Linked DNA regions of Homo sapiens. The protein of the gene in region 3 interacts with the protein of the main gene of each other region in a pairwise test. Each region holds a gene or a part of one and is shown on either strand. Other genes may lie near its edges. The genes, in order: HERPUD2, TIMMDC1 and TMEM144.

Evidence for each region.
Region 1: the proteins of TMEM144 (region 3) and HERPUD2 interact in binary tests that used the Homo sapiens proteins (3 or more experiments, as listed by UniProt).
Region 2: the proteins of TMEM144 (region 3) and TIMMDC1 interact in binary tests that used the Homo sapiens proteins (3 or more experiments, as listed by UniProt).

Annotation. Positions count from the first base shown.
Region 1 is NC_000007.14:35,691,724-35,700,433, forward strand, and holds the start of HERPUD2 (homocysteine-responsive endoplasmic reticulum-resident ubiquitin-like domain member 2 protein), read right to left. Parts: upstream 3,413-8,710; 5' UTR 3,078-3,412; exon of another isoform or gene 2,905-3,077; 5' UTR 2,608-2,904; coding exon 2,461-2,607; intron 1-2,460. UniProt on the Homo sapiens protein: Could be involved in the unfolded protein response (UPR) pathway.
Region 2 is NC_000003.12:119,521,110-119,525,590, reverse strand, and holds the end of TIMMDC1 (complex I assembly factor TIMMDC1, mitochondrial isoform 1 precursor), read right to left. Parts: intron 1,986-4,481; coding exon 1,835-1,985; 3' UTR 501-1,834; downstream 1-500.
Region 3 is NC_000004.12:158,205,221-158,214,101, reverse strand, and holds the start of TMEM144 (transmembrane protein 144), read right to left. Parts: upstream 3,617-8,881; 5' UTR 3,516-3,616; intron 2,650-3,515; 5' UTR 2,528-2,649; intron 2,042-2,527; exon of another isoform or gene 1,882-2,041; intron 1,495-1,881; 5' UTR 1,435-1,494; coding exon 1,326-1,434; intron 1-1,325.

The DNA.
Region 1 (8,710 bases), on a different chromosome or scaffold from region 3:
TTTATAATATTACTTAATAGCAAACTGTGCTGAATTCTAAATAATGACCTTACAAAGTAAACTTTTAGGACTCCAACTCCTATGCTGAGGACTACCTATGGCTTTGCGATACCATTAAACTGCTGCTCAACAACTGTGATGCTTCAAATCAATTCTCACGTGATAAGAATGTAAACTTACTAAATCTAGTAACTATACAAAGTTTTCAGTGAAATTCTATGACGATAAACACACATACCCCCACCGCTCCAGAGCTCCACCCACTCAACCTAGAAATGAAAGTCAGACATTACAATTCACTTAAAGAAAACTTGTCAAAGGAGAAAAAAAGGTTTGCCATGTTAATCATTAATAGGCTGCATAGTATTTGGTTTAGCCTCCAAAAGTGTCTCCAGTGTGGCTACAGGAGGCAGGCAGTTTGGGAAGGAGTTCTGTAACAGATCTCATCCTCAGACAGCTAACTAATGCACAGCGGCACTGACATCCTCCACTAGTGATCAGTGCTGCACAGGCAGACCTCCTGCCAAAAGCAGGCCTCTTCATGGGTAGATAAGGCAGACAGGCTTCCCACTCCCGTCTCAGGTACTTTTTTTTAAAAAAGCTTTAGAAAAAAGTCTATAAACTGCAGACTAGGTCCCTTTTGGTTTAATAGTACAATGTAAAGATCTCGCCTACGTACATACCAGAGCATATATTTGCTATGAACAGTATTATGGAAGTCTATGACTTTCAATTGACTATCCTAAAAACCTATTTTCCACTTCAAAAATGTGTGAAACTAATCATATGCAACAGGAAATCTTTTGTAATCAAGGTATTTTCAAACAGATTCTTACTCCCTGTGTAAATCTTAACTTTCAAACAAAAGATGTGAATAAACAGGGGCTCTAACTAGTTTAAGTACTTAAATTCCTCAGGGTTTTTTTTCCCTCCTACTAAAAATATTTGTATCACAAAGTACTGATAAACACAGCTAATGCCGATTAAGAGTTGTTTTTCTAAACCTCCTGTTTTTGCAATAACCGTCCTATTTCTGTGGTTCTTCTGCAAGTCTAAAAGCCTAACTAAACTTAATACTACAACACTGAAATGCTCATAATTCATTAATATCGTAATATAGATCAAGTGTCTTCCTTAACTTAGGTGCATAAAACAAGTGTTAAGTGTAGAAAGCATAGTTGCCTTCCAACAGATCCATGCTTAAATGTACCTGATGCCAAAAGTTATTTCCCACCCTAAAATCCGACCCTCTTTATTAAACAAAAGTTTTAGTAATTAAACACTACTTATTCAAGAATAAAAAATGTATACAGTGGAGAATGCGAAAGCCTCACTTTCATATACAGTACTCTACATGACGGTATACTTCTTTTCTAAACTATTCCAAGACTCCTTGATTACCAACCACGGCCTTTCAAATCTGACTTTGGGGACAGATGGAGCTGTACTGTCTATATTTTATTTATTATCTCTGCAATATCCAGTTATGATTCAGAATGGAACACAGAATGGAAAAGCCATATGAGAGGGATGCACCAAATGGTGGTGGGGTGGAGGGCAGTTCTCTTTTAAACTAATGTCCATGTATCCTCTACAGGAGAAAAATGTTGAAAGGGGTTGTGGTGAAAACGAATCTACAACTTATAATTCTTTGGTCCTTGAAACATATATAGTAACCTTGAAAGTATAATTTTTATAGGGGACACATACTTATTTCTAAGAAAAAAAAATCTTCAATTTCTGTTTAAGTTTCTGGGCCAAGTGTTGAAAGTAAAATGGAATTTTAGTGTAATAAGCAATAAAAGCTCTGATACGGGTTGTAGTGCTTTATCTTTTTTTTTTTTAAGAAAGGATATATCTCTCACTCGCATATTAGGTTGATGACTTTAAGTCCAAAGAAAGTAGTCCCTTTTCCATGCCTGCCAATTCTTTGAGACAGAGTCTCACTGTGCCACTCAGGCTGGAGGGCAGTGGTGCGATCTTGGCTCACTGCAACCTCCGCCTCCCGGGTTCAAGCGATTCTCCTGCCTCAGCCTCCTGAGTAGCTGGGATTACAAGCATGCGCCACCACGCCCAGCTAATTTTTGTATTTTCAGTAGACATAGGGTTTCACCATGTTGGTAAGGCTGGTCTCGAACTCCTGACCTCGTGATCCGCCCGCCTTGGCCTCCCAAAGTGCTGGGATTACAGGTGTGAGCCACCGCGCCCGGTCTTTGCCTGCCAATTCTTAAGTCCCTTGATATTTCTGCTTCCTCTTACTAATTAACTGAACCTCATCAGGAAAATATTAATGATGGTTCGAACACTCAGGAGACACAACCTCAGAACTCAAAATACCTCGCGGTCTACCAAAAGAGACCTATTTGATTCAAGACTGGAGGGGAGAAGCAGGAAAAAGGAGGGTACACGGCACGAAAAGCTGCTGGTCAGAGCAGCTGCCCCCAGCTTTTACACACTTACTGGTTTGCTAGGGTAAACGTTAGATAGATGCGTTTTTAGTTTCCCCACGGTCCAGTTCAAGAAGCAGCTAATAGTCTGGTCACTGTATTTCTGATTCGGTGCTTTAATGATGAGGGTCACAGGAATCTCCATCCCACTTTGGTCCATGGTGCCCCCAAAGTCAGACAGAGTCCAGAGGAGCGGCAGTTAAGCCCAAAAGAGCCGAGATGGTCACCGCCGGCGCGACTGGGATGAGGACAGAAGTGAGTTCTTAGTATTCCGTGTCCAAGTCAGTTACAAGTGCACTGGAGGATACGAAGCCCATTGCCGGTACCAAGGATGGACTGAGGTGGTGGCGACTGCGACGGTGGGGTCTGGGTGCCCGGCCGTGGAGGCAGCTCTCCCCGCCAGGTCCGGGCTCCGCCGGGCTCCGGACTGTGGAGGCCGTCGTGAGGAGAAAGGAAGCTATACGAAGGAAGGGTGGGAGGGATGAGGGCACAACGGCCGGCCCGGGGTCACTGCCCCGCCCCACCGCGACCCCCAAGCTGGAACGCAACAAGGCCCCTACGCCACGGCCCCGCGGTGCGGATCGGGGAAGCAGCTGGGCCGCTCAGGGCGGTCAGCGGGCACTGGGGTACCTGAGAGAAGGCCGCGGGGCCCGCCACCGCCGCCCTCCGCGCCCAGGCAGGGCCGCCAGCCACACCGTCCGGCCAGGCGTTTTCCGTGGCAGCCGCTCCCTTCCTGCTGCGCGGCGACCGGCACGGCCCAGCCCCGGGTCTCGCGAGGAGGCGCGGGTGAAAGGGAGAGAAGCTGACCGAAGGCGCGGCCCGGCTCTCCGCCTGACCCCTCAGTCTGGACAGCGCAGGGTGGCGGCAAGGCAGGGCTGGGCCGGGGGCGGCCCAGGCGACTACAGGTAGCAGGAGGGCGGGGACGAGAGCCGTTGCGCCACCGCTGGCGCGCCGGTTTTGTTGTTATTGCGAGGATTGTCTGGGGCCCCTTTAAGCCGGAACAGGCAGGGCGGAAGTGCGTCACCGGCGGCACGCCCCTGCACATGGACCTCCCCCGTCCCCGCCATCCCTGCCGATCCTGTTGCTGCCGCCTTCCCGCCGTGCTCGGGCTGCCCGGGACTCTAGCCGCCAGGCTTCGCGTCGCCCAGCGGCAGATCGGGCTCCTGGGAGCCTCTCCCCTGGCCGTTTGCTCGGCCTCGGCCCCAGCTGCCCTGGGGCCTAGCCACTAGCTCCCCTGGCGCTAGCCTACCCTGTCTTGACCGCACCCTGAAGATTTGGGAAGTCTTTCTCCATCCCAAGAGTCGTCTCTGCAAAAGTTGGTGTCCTTCCTGGTGCTGAACCACGCTTCTGCTCAAAATGTGTTGAGCGTCGTCTGTCTGCAAAGCACGGTGCCAGGAGCTTTGGTGGAGAAGGCATGGGGTACATGTGTAAAGAGTACAGGCTTTTGGTTAAACCTGAAGTCCTCCTCTACTTTCTGGGGGACCCTGGCCGTCCTTGCTGAGCCTCCGTTGACTTCTCTAATGGGGACGGTAATGCCTACCTGACCACAAGCTGATGAGTAAATGAGCTATGAGTGCAAAGTGTGGTGCAGTTCTGGCGTGTGCCAGCCTCTCAAGTGTCAGTTTCCGTCTCATTCCTCTTAATCTTCACTAAAATGGACAAGTATTCATTGAGCACCTAATGCGTGTTCAGTATGGTGGGAGATGAGGGATGACAGTATTATTTTTCTATTTTATAGGTTAGACATAGAACAAAAGGTTGAGTCTATTGCCCATAGCCGAACTTTTCTTCATTTTCTACTGTGGTTTAGAAGTCGGTATAGTAAGTTAAGGGTTGTTAGATGTGCATTTTCACAGCTCCCAGCTTCCACTTAGGAGTAGATAACATAGGGGACTTTGCGAGCTGGTCTCTTTCCCTCTTAGCTTCAGAAGGGCTTCGAGGTAGCCACCACTGAATTAGTTGAGAGACAAGGCACCCCTACGGAGGAAATCTCAACTGCACAACCCCTACTGTGCCCCAATTCAGCAGGAAGCAGTTAGAGCGGTGGTCAAACCTCCCCAATAGCACTTGGGTTTTCCTGTTGAGAGGGGGTACTGAGAGACAGGACTAGTTGGATTTCCTAGGCTGGCTAAGAATCCCTAAGCCTAGCTGGGAAATTGACCACGTCCACCTTTAAACACGGGGCTTGCAATTTAGCTCACACCCGACCAATCAGGTAGTAAAGAGAGCTCACTAAAATGCTAATTAGGGAAAAACAGGAGGTAAAGAAGTAGCCAATCATCTATCGCCTGAGAGCACAACAGGAGGGACAATGATCAGGATATAAACCCAGGCATTCAAGCCAGCGGTGGCTACCCTCTTTGGGTCCCCTCCCTTTGTATGGAAGCTCTGTTTTCACTCTATTAAATCTTGCAATTGCACACTTTTCTGGTACGTGTGTGTCACAGCTCAAGCTGAGCTTTCGCTCACCGTCCACCACTGCTGTCTGCCGCTGTCACAGACCCACAGCTGACTTCCATCCCTCTGGATCCAGCGAGGCGCCCATTGCTGCTCCTGATCGGGCTAAAGGCTTGCCCTTGTTCCTGCAGGGCTAAGTGCCCAGGTTCGTCCTAATCTAGCTAAACACTAGTCACTGGGTTCCACGATTCTCTTCCATGACCCACAGCTTCTAATAGAGCTATAACACTCGCCGCTTGGCCCAAGATTCCATTCCTTGGAATCCATGAGGCCAAGAACCCCAGGTCAGAGAACACAAGACTTGCCACCATCTCGGAAGTGGCCCGTCACCATCTTGGAAGCGACCTGCCACCATCTTGGGAACTTGGGGAGCAAGGACCCCCAGTAACATAGTGACCAGGAGGAAATTCTTCCTCTCAACAGCTAATGCAGCAGGATCTCTTACACCGTACCCTCCCTCACCTTGCTCTTGCTCTTCATGGTAGAACACGTACCATATCTTAGCTGTACTCTATCAACTGCGCATCTGAAGTAAAGAGTGAAGTCTTCTTTGTTTCCAGTCATGGAGCAACAACTTGCTATGATACTGGCCTTCTGTAGCTGACTCTTCTTTGTCTACCCAGGCACTCTAATGGAACTTTAATTCTAGCTAAAGTTATTTTCTCAGACTCCTTTGAAGCAAGGGGCAGCCATTTGACACACTTCAAGCCAATGAGTTGAATGTTGAACTTATTGCTGAGGCTTCTAAGAAAGCATATAGATGGAAGGGCTCTGCGAATCAGAGCTCATCTTTGCCCTACACCTGTCTTCCAGGAGGAACGTGAAGAGCTACAGCACTCATAGTTCAGTCATGAAACAACAAACAGGAGAACAATGGCCTGCATTCCAAGGATGGCAGAGCAGAAAACTGTAAAGAGGCTGGGCATTTGATGGCATTGTGGTGCCACCAGACAAGCCCTAAGCTATCTTCCCTAAGACTTCTTGTTTTGGGTCAAATTCCTGTTTAAGCCAGGAAGTTTTCACAACCTTCACCACCCAGTCCTGCAGCTGTTGTCTCATGCTTGTGACTCAGACTTCCAGGAATCCTTTAGAAGTGATGTGGTGATCTCGTTTGGCACTATGCAATGTACACTATTAATGAAGGTACCCTAATAATTATAAATATTAAGACAGAATGTGCATTTCACAGTGATTTAAACACTCTTTAACACTCTTTAAAACAGTCCATCAAAGGTTCGCTAACACAGAGAAAAACATTTAAAATTGTAATAAAGGCTGGGCGCAGTGGCTTGCCTCTAATCCCAGCACTTCAGGAGGCCGAGGCAGGCAGATTGCTTGAGCTCAGGACTTTAAGACCAGACTGGGCAACACGGAGAAACCCCGTCTCTACAAAAAAATTCAAAAATAAGCCGGGCGTGGTGGTGCACGCCTGTGTTCCCAGCTACTCTGAAGGCTGAGGTGGGAGGATTGCTTGAACCCAGAAGGTAGAGGTTGCAGTGAGCTGAGACCATACCATGCACTCCAGCCTGGGTGATAGAGTGAGACTCTGTCTCAAGAAAGAATAAAAAGTAAAAATAAAATTGTAATGAACATTCAAGAAATTGAAATATACGGGTACAAAGATGATATAGTATCAGAAAAAATGATTTTTTTTAAATTTTACAGCCACTTGAATTAAGTACCTAAAAATGCTTTTGATGCTGTTGAGCTTGGCTATGATAACAACAGTATGTAAATATTCCACTTTTGTTAAAATATGTATAAACAGGTATGTGTACAGAGCAGTGTATGAAAGGGTGGTCCCCAGAATATTGATAGTGTTTGACGTGGAATTTGGGCTAGGAAAAATAATTACCAATGAGGAGATACAAGATAGCAGCAGTTAGGGAGAGGCCGTCCATGCAGCTGCCTATTTAAATCACTGTCCATGTTAACAGATAAGAACTGGAAATGTCAAAGAACAATTGCCCAGCTCAGTTACCATCTGCTACTAAAGATAGCCCCAGCTGGGTGCGATGGCTCACACCTGTAATCCCAACACTTTGGGAGGCTGAGGCAGGTGGATCACCTGAGGTCAGGAATTCAAGACCAGCCTGGCCAACATGGTGAAACCCCATCTCTACTAAAAATACAAAAAATTAGCTAGGTGTGGTGGTGCATGCCTGTAATCCCAGCCACTAGGGAGGCTAAGGCAGGAGAATTGCTTGAACTCTGGCAGCAGAGGTTGCAGTGAGCTGAGATTGTGCCACTGCACTCCAGCCTGGTCGACAGAGTGAGACTCAGTCTCAAAAAAAAAAAGCCCGTAATGAGAACTCTCAAGAGTACCATGGTAATATAATATGGTAATAGATAATAAAAGAGTCATGATCATTAATAATAAATATAATACTTCTACTTCAACTGAGGAATGGAAAACTAAACATCATATGTTCTCATATGTCCCTAAGCTATGAGGATGCAAAGGCATAAGAATGATACAATGGACTTTGGGGACTTTCAGGGAAAGGGTGAGAAGGGCGTAAGGGATAAAAGACTACAAATTGGGTTCAGTATATACTGCTCGGGTGATGGGTGCACCAAAATCTTAAAAATCGCCAAAGAACTTATGTAACTAAATACCACCTGTTCCCCAAAAAACTATGGAAATTAAAAATTAAAAAATAAGTATAATTTCTGCTTTAGCGATATTAACTATTCAGTACACAATAAGTGAGTTTAGCAATTCAGTGATTTCTGACTGTTGGGTAGCTCTCTTTGTTAACAAATAAAATATAAATTTGAAGAAACTTATTTGTAAATAATGGTTTTCTGTGAATTAATGGGATGTTTGTTTACTTCCACTTCTTCTTTGAGGTGTAAAAGAGAACAGCTAGAAAACACATATTGTGGCTGGGGCGGTGGCTCACACCTGTAATCCCAGCACTTTGGGAGACCGAGGCGAGCGGGTCACTTGAGGTCAGGAGGTTGAGACCAGCCTGGCCAACATGATGAAACCCCGTCTCTACTAAAAATACAAAAATTAGCTGGACATGGTGGCACGCACCTGTAGTCCCAGCTATTCAGGAAGCTGAGGCAGGAGAATCGCTTGAACCCGGGAGGCAGAGGTTGCAGTGAGCCAAGATCACACCACTGTACTCCAGCTTGAGTGACAGAGTGAGACCTCCATCTTGGGGAAAAACAGTAAAAAAAAAAAAAATTGATTCATTCAGTGAGATTACAGTTTCCTTTAAAAATTCAAAGTAAGTGCTTGTCACTGAGCTTTTCTTACTGAAATTTGGAGTACCTTCCAGGAAGCTAAAATACTTTTATGATGTTGAATAGTATAGTTTGAGTTTGTTAGCTCTCTTGGAAGGAAAGACTTCAAGTGATGATCTTGCGGTTTCAAGTTTCAGAGATGATGTTGGCCATCTGGCTTCTGATTCCATTCATTTCTACTTTCACCATCCTTGTCATTTTTTAAAGAGACTGTGTCACAAAGCATCTAATCAAATCTTAATCAAGTTTATTGTTTTTAAAAAATGAAAACCTACATTGGAAGCCTAAGAAAATTAGCTCATTTCAACACTCTACTTTAAAAATCGTAAATGGTCCCAGATGTTTGATCACAAGTCATCTTGTAGGAAATGAAACAAAACCATTCATTAAATCCCAAATGGTGTTTTGAATTATATGTCATCTAATGAATTCTTAGAACAGTCTCGAGAGATAATGAGGACACTGAAGCTCAGAAAGGGTAAGTATCCTGCCCAAAATCACACAGTAAGTTCCAAATAGAGCTCTGTCCCCACTGTAATGCACACACTTTC
Region 2 (4,481 bases), on a different chromosome or scaffold from region 3:
GTGACCTTGATCAAGGTGTTTTGAAATGCAGAATTCTTGAGTTCTGGAAGGGACTTTAGAGAATACCAGTGTTATTAATGACAAAGGCACTGAGGCCCAGGGAGGTGACCCGAATTATAAAGGCCAGCGCCAGAACCCAGATTTCCTAACTCTGGTGCTCTTTCCCTTTATCAGTTTGACTGTGGCCTGTTAACTGGTATATACATATATATGTCAGGCAAAGTGCTGCTGGAAGTAGAATTTGTCCAATAACAGGTCAACTTCAGAGACTATCTGATTTCCTAATGTCAGAGTAGAAGATTTTATGCTGCTGTTTACAAAAGCCCAATGTAATGCATAGGAAGTATGGCATGAACATCTTTAGGAGACTAATGGAAATATTATTGGTGTTTACCCAGTATTCCATTTTTTTCATTGTGTTCTCTATTGCTGCTCTCTCACTCCCCCATGAGGTACAGCAGAAAGGAGAACTATCCAAAACTAATTTCCTCTGACATGTAAGACGAATGATTTAGGTACGTCAAAGCAGTAGTCAAGGAGGAAAGGGATAGTCCAAAGACTTAACTGGTTCATATTGGACTGATAATCTCTTTAAATGGCTTTATGCTAGTTTGACCTCATTTGTAAAATATTTATGAGAAAGTTCTCATTTAAAATGAGATCGTTGTTTACAGTGTATGTACTAAGCAGTAAGCTATCTTCAAATGTCTAAGGTAGTAACTTTCCATAGGGCCTCCTTAGATCCCTAAGATGGCTTTTTCTCCTTGGTATTTCTGGGTCTTTCTGACATCAGCAGAGAACTGGAAAGACATAGCCAACTGCTGTTCATGTTACTCATGACTCCTTTCTCTAAAACTGCCTTCCACAATTCACTAGACCAGAAGTGGACGCAACTTAAGCTGGGATAATCACATTATCATCTGAAAATCTGGAGTTGAACAGCAAAAGAAGACAACATTTCTCAAATGCACATCTCATGGCAGCTAAGCCACATGGCTGGGATTTAAAGCCTTTAGAGCCAGCCCATGGCTTTAGCTACCTCACTATGCTGCTTCACAAACCTTGCTCCTGTGTAAAACTATATTCTCAGTGTAGGGCAGAGAGGTCTAACACCAACATAAGGTACTAGCAGTGTTTCCCGTATTGACAGGAATACTTAACTCAATAATTCTTTTCTTTTCCATTTAGTAACAGTTGTGATGACTATGTTTCTATTCTAAGTAATTCCTGTATTCTACAGCAGATACTTTGTCAGCAATACTAAGGGAAGAAACAAAGTTGAACCGTTTCTTTAATAATGCTGATCTACTTTTTGTTGAATTTGTATTTTATTTCAAGTGTCAAAGAAATCATCTTTGTTTATTTAGATGAAACCAAACACTACACATTTACACTCACACTGCTTCCAGGACCCAAGGGTTTCACAGACCATTTGCCTACCTGGTTCTTTCCTCTCCTCTTTCCAGTGATTTCTAGAATACCCTTTCAAAGGACCACATGAATATACGAACTGTAAAATTCAACTTTAATCTTTTGCGAAATGTTTTATTTACTGCTTAAAATCTAGGTGGGTGGATATATTCATGTATGCATATATTGATAGATTAATACAAACATAAGTATGTATTTAAATTTAAGGATAAGTAAAGTGAGAGTACAACAGCCCCATTCTTAGTTAAAAAGAAAAGAAAAAGACAAGAGCAAGCCACTGCCACCACAGGTACCAGCACTTAAATTTGTCAGCAGGCTGACCAAAGAGTGGCCTGTCTGTTGGCATTCATCGGACATGGCAGCTCCCTTCAGCTCTCCAGTGAGTTTCAAGTTCAGAGCACTTTCAGTCCTTGTCTTGTTTATCTATTACTGAAGGGTTTCTAGGAAGGTTTAGCAGTGCTTCAATTTTCTTAGCATCATTCTCAGGTTCATCTTCCTGTAAACTACTTTCAATTTTCTCAGGGAGGTGCTCAGTAACTTGTAGTCTGCCTTTCCTGTAATCAGATAAAAAGGATAAATCAAATACTGCTCCATTTCTTTAGTTCTTACAGATTTAAAACAAAAAGGATAGCATTTGTCTTTTCCTCCCTGCTTTGGTATAGCAATTTAGAAGCAAATACTGCTCCCTGAACTTCAAATACAGTAACTTTCTTCTCTCTCCTAACCTCACAAGCCAATTATGATTTCCACATTACCATAATGGATACCGTTGTGGTGACAGCTCTGATCCATAAGATATTCCTAGTATGCTGGGTCCTAGAGTTCTCACAGGAGTGATGTGTGGGAACTGACACACTTTGTGCTAAGGTGTGAAGGCTTGAAGTCTCGCTGTCCTCTTGCTCCCAGGGCTGGGGGAATGTAAGTACCCTGCCACTCTTAAACTCTGTGACCAGACCTTTTAGGAACTGGTCAAAGGCTATAACAATGGTAATCCAAGGTAGAGAAAAGTCAGATAGAACAAAACTATAGATTTATATTTATGAAGAGTTAAAAACTAATTTCCAAATAATAGATCAGTTCTGTTTCTAAATCAAGTATTAGTGTCTTCCTTAAGTGATTATCGGGATTAAAGTTTCTTCTCAACTCTTCACAGATTTGGTCATTTGTTCTTCTATATCTCTATAGTCAGTTTTCTACATTTTCTGCTCATTGAGGCAATTTTTTTGACTCTCAATTTGTTTGATTTTCCTGTATTATTTTCAAGCGAAGAAGTAGGCACATACAAGACACTTAAACGTTTATTAACTCTCCTTAGAAATATCTCACACACACACACACACACACACACACACACAAACACCCATACGTGTATATGCTATACAATTTTGACACTTTCATTCTGCCAAAGTATTCTTTCATTACTATGATTCAAGTTGTTTTTATCCATCTGTCTTAAAATTGATACTAATAATTGTACATATTTATGAAGTACAAAGTGATATTTTTGTACATATACAATGTGTAATGATCAAATCAGGGTAATTAGCATATGCATCACCTCAAACATTTATCATTTCATACTGCTGGGACCATTCAAATATCCTCTCTTCCAGCTACTTGAAAATATACAATAAATTATTAACTATAGTCATCCTACAGTGCCACAGAACACTAGAATTTATGCCTCCGATCTAGTTATAATTTTGTATTCATTAATCAATCCCTTAAATCTCCTCTTCTTATGCCTTTCCCTGTCCCCTCCTCAGCCTCCAGTAACCATAATTCTACTCTTTACTTCTATGAGCCCATTTTTTAGCTCCCACATGAGCAACAGAACATGCAGTATTTATCTTTCTGTGTATGACTTATTTTACATAACAATGTCCTCCAGGCTCATCCATGTTCCCACAAATGACAGGATTACATTCTTTATTATGGCTGAATAGTATTCTATGGTGGATATATACCACATTTTCTTTATCCATCCATCTGTTGATGGACACTGACGTTGATTCCATACCTTGGCTATTAATAGTGCTACAATAAGCATGGGGGCGCAGATAACTCTTTGATATGCTGGTTTCTTTTCCTTTGGATAAATACCTAGTAGGGAAGATTGCTGGATCTTACAGTAGTTCTATTTTTAGTTTTCTGAGGAACTTCCATACTGTTTCTATAAAGGCTGTAATAATTTGCATTCCTACCAAAAGTATATGAGTTCCCTTTTCTTTCTACATCCTTGCCAAAATTTATTTTTTGTCTTTCTGATAATAGACATTCTAATTGGGATAAATATCACTCCAATTTCCCAAACTGTCCCCAAACCACATTTCATTGTGGTTTTGATTTGCATTTCCCTGATTAGTTATGTTGAATACTTTTTCATATACTTGTTAGCACTTGTAGGTATTTTTTGAGAAATACAAGTTTCCCCCCAAGCTCCCCCGCCCACTTTTTTTTTTTTAAAGAGACAGGGACTCACTTTGTTGCCCAGGCTGGAGTGCAGTAGCACAATCATGGCTCACTGCTGCCTTGAATTACTGGGCTCAAGGGATCCTTCAGCCTCAGTCTCCCAAGTAACTGGGGCTATAGGCATGCACTACTGTGCCTAATTTTCTTTTGTCTCATGCTGTCACTCAGGCTGGAGTGCAGTGGCACCATCTTGGTTCATTGCAACCTCCACCTCCCAGGCTCAAACAATCCTCCTGCCTCAGCCTCCCACGCAGTTGGGATTACAGGTGTGCACCATGACAATTTTTGTATTTTTAGTAGAAATGGGGTTTCACCATGTCGGTCAGGCTGGTCTCGAACTCCTGACCTCAAGTGATCCGCCTGCCTCGGCCTCCCAAAGTCCTGGAATTACAAGTGTGAGCCACCGTGCCTGGCCTCCAATGCCCTTTATTTCTTTTTCTTGCCTAACTGCTCTGGCTAGGATTTCTAATACTATGTTGAACAAGACTGGTAAGAGTGGGCATTCCTATTTCATTCCAGTTCTTTGAGGGAAAAGCTTTTCACTTTTCCCTGTTCAGTATGATATTAGCTGTGAGTTT
Region 3 (8,881 bases):
TTATGATACTTCACTCCATCCTCGGTGAAAGAGTGAGACTCTATCTCCCCAAAAAAATGAAAAATAAAAAATAAAAAGAGTAGAATCACAGAGATGAAAAGAAACTTCATTTTATAAGTTGTTCACTTTACAAATGAGAAACTGAAAACAGCAGAGCTGGTAATATTTGCCCAGGATCACAAAGCTAATTGTGGAAGACTAAAAAAGCTAGATCCTCTACCCATTTTTTTGTTCTTCGGGTAGTTCCCATTCTTGTCCTAACTCCAGAGGAAAAGAGAAGAAAGGCCCTGGAGGAAAATAGGAGGTAATCCTATTTTCTAAGTGCACGAAGACAAAGAATTGGGGAAATAACACAACTGCTGTCAGGTGATAAATACTACCAAGGAAGTAATTCCCAACATGTGTTCACCATAAATCTCAATTCCTTCTCCTGGCTTTAATATGGAAGTCAGGCAAATACAAATAACTCTTGCTTCTCCTTCCCCAAAATTCACATTAGTCAGTTCTGCTATAATGTAACATGTGCATTCCTTGAAATCACTGCACTATGCAAAATCATGCAGTAAAAACTACAGAGCATAATGGGAAAATGGGGCTAGGAGAACAACACTCAACCTAATTAAAATAGTAGTACAGTTTTAACTGGTTAACTGGTTAATTACATGATGCTGTAATAAATAGGGCATTTTAATTGAAAAACACCAGAAGTTTGCTCCTGGAAGTGAGCATCCAAAGGGTTGCAGCTTACGAGTTACTGTGAAGGTATTGGGTGAGGAGTTGGGACAGGAGATGTGGTTGGGTGGAATACATCATAACCACATGTGATGAACTAAGGGAGCTGGTCGATATTTGAAGATTGTACGTGTGTCTGCGTGCATTATGTGTATTATCACACATCTTTATTCATCTAGGTGCAGTCTTCTGTGCCTATCTAGAGGTTTCTCAGGGACAAAATTGCACATAAGCAAGCCAAAAATCTGTTATGCTTACATTGTTCTCTAATATATCAATCATGTTGAAGATTCATGTTTTCAAAACAGGTGTTATAGTAGAACTGACTATAAATTTCTTCCATTCATATAATGGCCCAAGAGATTTCCTGACTGTACCCTCCCTAACTTTACCATGAAACAACCTTAATGGTTCTCCTATTCTGACTTTCAGACAAACTGGTATGAGCACTGTCAAATGACTAATTTTAAGCTCTATTCACTAGGTATCAAGATCAACATGATTTATTTTTGTAGCTATACTTTTAAAAGACCAAAAAAGGAACTTCATTTTTAAAAATAATATAACGTTAACAATCAAGGAAAAATAATTACCATCACCAGTATCAAATTTTTTAAGTGGCACAAAATTTGAGCCAAACAAAAGGATAGCTACAAAACAGGAGATGTAACCAAAGGTTAGGTCTGCTCCATTGTTGCTCATGATTCCAGTCTTAATGAGTTAGCTGGTTCACTTTAGACTTGATGTACTTTTCAGGAGCTTCTGAAATAAAAGAAAAAATGAAACAATTGAGACGTGAATCTGTGACCAAATTGTGATTAACATATTATATTTATTGAATTTTTCAAAAGCACGCTAAGACTCCTTTTTGCAGATAGGATATTACACAACTATATATAATGTTTGTACTTCATGTTAATTTATTCTATCACCAAATATTTTTGATCACTAGCCTACAATTTAAAAAGAACAAGCCCTGAAGACAAATTTTTAGTACATTACAAAAAAAATTCTCCTGTGTAGGTTCCATCACTGCAGAAAGTTTTAGCGGATAACGCTGCTAAGCTTATTTAACAGCTTTAGCTTCTCTATGAAGAAAGGACTAAAACCACAAATAACCAAGAATTAGACATTTTTTCATAAAGTTACCATTTGGAAAAGGCCACTGAATACAATTCAGATTTTTAGTTTCCCGAGATACATGAGAAAAAAGCACCACCAAAGTAATTTTATCACAGGAGGTACAGCGTCTTTCCACAATGCCATCTTGGATTCATATTTTGCACACTGGCCCTTTGGAATAAGCCCTCTGGAATAGAAGCAGAATAATCCAGTGGTTTCTTTTTTCCTGCAAATTTAATGTTATAGTAATAACTTCTTGTATATATGTATTGAATAAAGTACACCTGAAATCACCTTTCCTTGTTATTTTATTTCACAATGACAAATATTTAAAGGTCCATGTATTGTTCCTTATGTGTTCTTGCAGAGAATATTAAATATACAACAACCTACAAAATATGTTATTTACCATTATTAAAGATAGTTTAACTGAAAACAAGGATCACTTCAAAACTGGTCAATAAACTTTAGTAAAGAAAATGTGTATTTGAAATTGTGTGGACTTTCTTAAAACAAAAACACATTGCTATTAAGAAAACATCCTCTATAGGGATGTGGTTGAGGAAGACACACTGAGGCACATTTCAACATTGACACATTAACACTATTCAATAAAAATAATTATTATTCTACTGTTAGGCTCAAAGAGAGGTTCAGCCCTGCAGTGACTTACATGGGTTATGGCTCAAGGGTCAGCTGAGGCAGGTGCTTGCTGCTAAGATAACAGAGGTGCCAAGATAACAGAGGTGCAACAGGTCAGAGATGCAGGAAGTGTCTTGAAAAGCTAACCTATGACTAAAAAGACACATGACTGGGTGATAGCTAACACATCATTTTCTCCCCATTTTAATTCACAACAAGCAAAGCAAAACAAAACCTTTATGTGTACATTGATAGAAGAGAATGTCTAACCTTCAAGAGTGGCAAATTATTTTATTGAGAAGGCTCCACAAAGGCCCTACACCTCTGAAACGGAGAGACTAATTTGACGTGCTAATTAGAGTGCATGAGGTGCATTTCGACTACTGAATAAACATCAATCAGTTATTACCTATAGATAAATGAAGTTTATTGCATGCAGCTCTTGTACATTTCAGAGCATGTGATCTTATTTCATTGTGAATTGGCAATAACTTACTGTCTTTAAAAAGGCTCTACCGCTCTCTAAAATAATGAAATTTTTGTGGAAAAGAAAAGCAGTATCACTCCATCCAGCACATTTTTCCCAATTCTTCCTGCACAAAACCTAAAAAGTCTCAAACATTATTTTAATGTTTTCTTTTCAGCGTTCGCTGATATTTTGTCAAACTATATTAATTCATTTTTATTTTATTACTTTTGTTTCATTTATTAGTAAATACTTCTCCTTTACATTTTTCCTAGTAATTTAAACTTCTACGCAGACTTTGAAAAAATTCGTATTTGGTATGTTCTGATCAATACTGCTTGCTCCACTCCAACTAAAATTTCATTTTTAGTTTCATGTTGATTTTCCCAAATCTCCAGGCAAGTACCGCCTGTCTTTGGGCTAAAATTAACAGTGCTTGAATGTATTTATTCCGAGCCTTGATTTTTCTTTTTAACCATGAGCACGTTTCTGAAAAATCATGAGACGCTCCCCTGCAAAGCGACTTGGCTTTCCTTTGAGTGGCTGTACTCACTGCGTTCCGGGCTGGCGGCTGAAGCTCCTTCCTACTCAGCGCCGGCGCGATCCGCCCACTACGTGCCAGTGTGGAGCCGGAGCCTGACTCATTCCCTCTACGTGCTGGGGGCGGCCTGGCCAGCCTTTACTTTCTGCGGGGACAATTTCCCATACACCGGCCGGGAGGAGAGGGGAGGGCTCTAGCACCCGTGACCCAGACTCCCGTTCCCAGGGTGCTCGCGAAGAGCGCCAATCCAGCCTTGACTTCCTGCTGGGACGTTTACCTCCACTTAAGGAGGGTGGAGAAAGGAGGGCTTTAGCACCGGTGACCTAGAGGCCTTCATAGGACAGCAGGTTGGGGAACGCCTTCCTTCAGTTGCTGTGCTGGACTGAATTGTCAGGTGGCTCAAAAGGAGTCGTCAAGCCCTGGGTCGGTCAACCAGGAAACTAGAAGAGTTTTGTGTATTTCAAGAGGTGATTATTCAGGAAACTCTCAGCATGTCACCCTCTCTAAGTGTCACAGAGGGAGGTATTATTTGTGCAGTTTATGGATAAAACAAAAGTCTGAGGAATTTCACACCATTGTAAAAGATTATCTCAAGTGAATTTTTCCACTTGGTATTAAGAAATTCATCTGCACCACTGACGTCATTAACATTTCTTGTGACATTACAAGATTTCACTTGTAATCACTAATTCTTTGTAGATGCACCTAAGCCATTTATCTGTACAGGCCATTTATCTGTATTTTTTTTTTTTAAGACGGAGTCTCGCTCTCGTCCAAGCTGGAGTGCAGTGGTGCAATCTCGGCTCCCTGCAACCTCCGCCTCCTGGGTTCAAGCGATTCTCCTGCCTCAGCCTCCTGAGTAGCTGGGACTACAGGCACCCACCACCACACCTGGCTAATTTTTTTGTATTTTTAGTAGAGACGGGGTTTCACCGTGTTAGCCAGGATGGTCTCGATCTCCTGACCTCAGGTGATCCGCCCGCCTCGCCCTCCCAAAGTGAGGGAGTCCTCTCAAAAAAAAAACAAAACAAAAAAAACATCTCTTCATGTGGGTTCGCATACACCAAAGGATGCAAACTTTAAGTTGGAAAGGGGAAGTGTAGGTTCTGTGCTAGTCTGAGTTCAAAGAAGCCTTCTCTGAGGAAGTGCTATTTAACCCGAGACCATCCAGTGGTTGGTAATGGGTGTAGCATTCACAGGAAGGAGAAAACACAAGGACTGTTAAAATATGACATTTCCTAGAAGGAAGTTCTGCCTTAAACATTAATCACATCCATAGACTATCATGTCAGATGAGCAGATGGGAAGGCAAAATAACATTTCATTTAAAGAATTAAAGCAGCAAAGCTTTTTCACTTAAGGAAGAGGATTAATTTAGCAGTTCAGAAAGATTTTGAAGAAATCAGTTCCCCTTTCCACACATGCACACCTAAGACACACACACATACACAAACTTGCTTCCAAAAATATAGGGCCTAAATCCAACCTAGAATTGTTTCACTTCATGGTCACAAGATCATGTGGTTTATTCTTGCTTCACTCACATGGAGAAACTGAAGCTTGTGTCAGCATTTGCTGAGAATTTCTAAAGTCTAAAAGTGAGTTGGGGGCTGAATTAGGCCTGAGAAGATTCATTAGGGATATGCTAGGCCATTGCCTTTTACATTATGCCACAGAGCAAATCCAAACATGCATGACTCTATTCTTAAACTAAAATTTTTCTTTCAAATTGTTTCGTATACATGAATGCCTAAACAGAATGGTCTGTATTGGGAGAGTCCTGGCAGACACTAGAAGATCCAGGTTCTGACTTTAGCTTCGTCTGTTAGCAATATTTCTCATGGAAACTCATTTAATCTCTTTAAACCTTAGTTTTCTTATATGTAAAATGATAATAATAAGACCTGTGCACCTCCCCCTTTTATGTGGTCAAAAGAGATATATATATATATATATATATATATATATATATATATATATATATATATATAACATTATTACTAGGACTTCTGGTTTCTGCTCTGACATTTGAAAGGTGTGAAAGTCTCCACTTCCATCATCACAACAAGAAAAAAATGAGCAAATCAAAAATCAACTACTCTTTTTAGATCTGCAGAGAATTGATGTCATAGGACATGCCACCTCTTTGCAAACTGAAGAAATAGGTGAATACGGAGAATTACAGCTTATCAGGACAGCAAAAGCCACTGGAGCCAGTAAAGGATAGGGGGGCATTTATACAGTATTTGGCCTATTGCTGAAGGCTGAGTGTGGACTAACTTGAGAGTTGAAAACTCAGAGACAGTGGGAGTCATTCATATGGGAGCATCCACACATTAATGAGTTTTACTTTCAGAAGACAGGACAAAAGTTTCCTCTTTTTTCTGGCATGTGGGAGGAAAACAATAACTATTTGAAATATACTCAGAAACAAAAGCCTGTCCTCAAGGTAAACTTTACCCCAGAGCTTTATCTGAATTAGAGAAAAGGCAACTAGACAGTTTGAACACCTTCTACACTTTCTTTCTCACATAAGGAGAAAAACAAAAGAAGAAACCCTTATGAAGTTCACAGCTCAGGGATTCTGGACAACTAGAAAACAGAGTTTTAGATGTTGGCAAAGATACAGAGAAAAGGGAATGCGTATATACTGTTAATGACAATGTAAACTAGTAAAACCCCTACGGAAAACAGTATGGGGATTTCTCAAATAACTGAAAATAGAAGTACCATTTGGCCCAGCAATCCCACTATTGGGTATCTACTTGAAGGAAAAGAAATTGTTATAATCAATGACACTGGCACTCATATATTTATTGGGGTACTATTCACAATTAGGAATCATCCTAAGTGTCCATCAGTAGTTGATTGGATAAAGAAGATGTGGTATATATAAACTATGGAATATTACGCAGCCATAAAAAGGAGTGAAATCATGTCCTTTGCAGCAACATGAATGGAGCTAGAGGCCATTATCCTAAGTGAAATAACTCAGACAGAAAATCAAGTACTGCATGTTCTCACTTATAAGTGGGAGCTAAACAATGGGTACACATGGACATAAAGGTAAAATAATAGATGCTAGGGACTCCAAAACAGGGAAACGTGGGAGAGGAGAGCAGATTGAAAATTATCTATTGGCTGTAATGTTTACTATTTGGGTGATGGGTTTACTAGAAGCCCAAACCTCACCATTACAGAATCTATCCATGTAGGAAACCTGCACATGTGCCTCCTGAATCTAAAATTGTTTAAAAAGAAATAAGAATTTAAAAATAGAGATTTTATCATAACATTATAGAATGTATCAACTCTCCAATATCTTACGACCACATAAATAGTGTTTTGGTATAATAACTGTGGATCACAACTAGAGAGAGTTGCAAGACACAGACTCTGCTTAAAAATGAGTCTCTAGGAAAACCCAAAGACAACAAATAGGGGAGACAAAAAGAAAGATATTAGAGAAAATAGAAGCCTCTGATACTTACAGCTACAACAACCATTAAGCACAGTCTAACTTCTGGCCCAATACACATAAAAACTAAAGGTCTACTTATCTTGTTTTCTATTATCTGATACATCATGCCTCACTTTCAATGAACAATTATAAGGCATGCTAAAAGGCAAGAAAAAACACAGCTCTGAAATGTCAAAGCAAGCCTCAGAACCAGATTCAGATATGGCAGGGATTTGGGAATTATGAGACTGGAAATTTAAAATATGCTATGACTAATATGCTAAGAGATCAACTGGGAAAAGTGCAAGAACGAATAAACAGAAAGATGAAAACTCAAAGAATCAAAAGGAAATGTTAGAGAACAAAAAATACTACAATAGAAAAGAGAATCACTTTTGATAGCTGCAAAAGAATCAGTGAGCTTGAAGGTATGTCAGTTGAAACTTCCCAAACTTAAATGGAAACAGAAAACAGAATAGGAAAAAGAAACACAATTTCCAAGAACTGTATGAAAATTACAAAAGGCATAAAATACAGGTAATAGCAATACCAGAAGGAAAAGAAAGAAAGCAGCAGAAGATACATAAATAATAGTTATCTAGGTATCTAATAATGGTGGACAACTTTCTAAAATTAATAACAGACATCAAACCACAGATCCAGGAAGATCAGATAACACCAAGCAAGATAAATTTTAAAAAAACTACATGTAGGCATATTGTATACAAATTGTGGAAAATAAAGAGAAAATATTGAAAGGAGTCAGAGGAAAAACTATCACCTTACTTATAAGGAACAAGGATGAGAATTAATCAGACTTCTCAGACACCATGCAAGGAAAAAGAGAGTAGAGTGAAATATTTAGAGTGTTGAAAGAAAAATCCACCAACCTATAATTTGTTTCTTATTCTTAATTGATCGCATAGATAACTTCAAAATAATAATATCAGTAATATATTGGGTGATATTAGTTTATGAATAAATGAAATAAATGACAGCAATGCTTTAAGGAACAGGAGAGAGGCACTGGGAATAATCTTTTATACAGTACCTGCACTACCTGTGAAATGGTATAGTGTTATTGAAAAGTGGACTTAGTTGTAAATGTGTACTGCAAACTCTAGGACAATTTCTAAAAACATATTTTTAAGTATAATTGATATGCTAAGAGAGGAGAGAAAATAGAATCATATAAAATGCTCAATTAAAACTAGAAAAGGGAGCAAAAGAGGTATATTAGTCTATTTGCAGACTACTATAAAGATACTACCTGAGGCTGGGTAATTTATAAAGGAAAGAGGTTTGACTCACAGTTCTGCATGGCTGGGGAGGCCTCAGGAAGCTTAGAATCATGGCAGAAGGCGAAGGAGAAGCAAAGGCATGTTGTACATGGCAGCAGGTGAGAGGAAGCAAAGCGGGAAGAGCCCCTTATAAAACCATGGGATCTTGTGAGAACTCACTCACTATCACGAGAACAGCATGGGGAAAACCACCCACATGACCCAATCACCTCCCACCAAGTCCCTCTCTCAACAGGTGGGGATTATGGGGATTACAATTCCACGTGAGATTTGGGTAGGGGCACAGAGCCAAACCATATGAAGAGGGGAGGACAAAAAAGGGAAATAATTACAAGGGCAACAAACAGAAAACAATTAATATATGGGAAATATTAATCCAACTCTATCAAGTATCACTAAATATAAATGGTCTACCAATTAAAAGACAACGACTGATTGAATAAAATACAGGCATCAACTCTACGTTGTTTACCAGAAATCCATGTTAATTATAAAGACACAAAAGGAATGGAGAAAGTTATATTTTTCTTTTCTTTCCTTTTTTTTTTTTTAACCTTTGAAACAGGGTCTCACTCTATCACCCAGGCTGGAGTACAGTGGCACAGTCATGGCACACT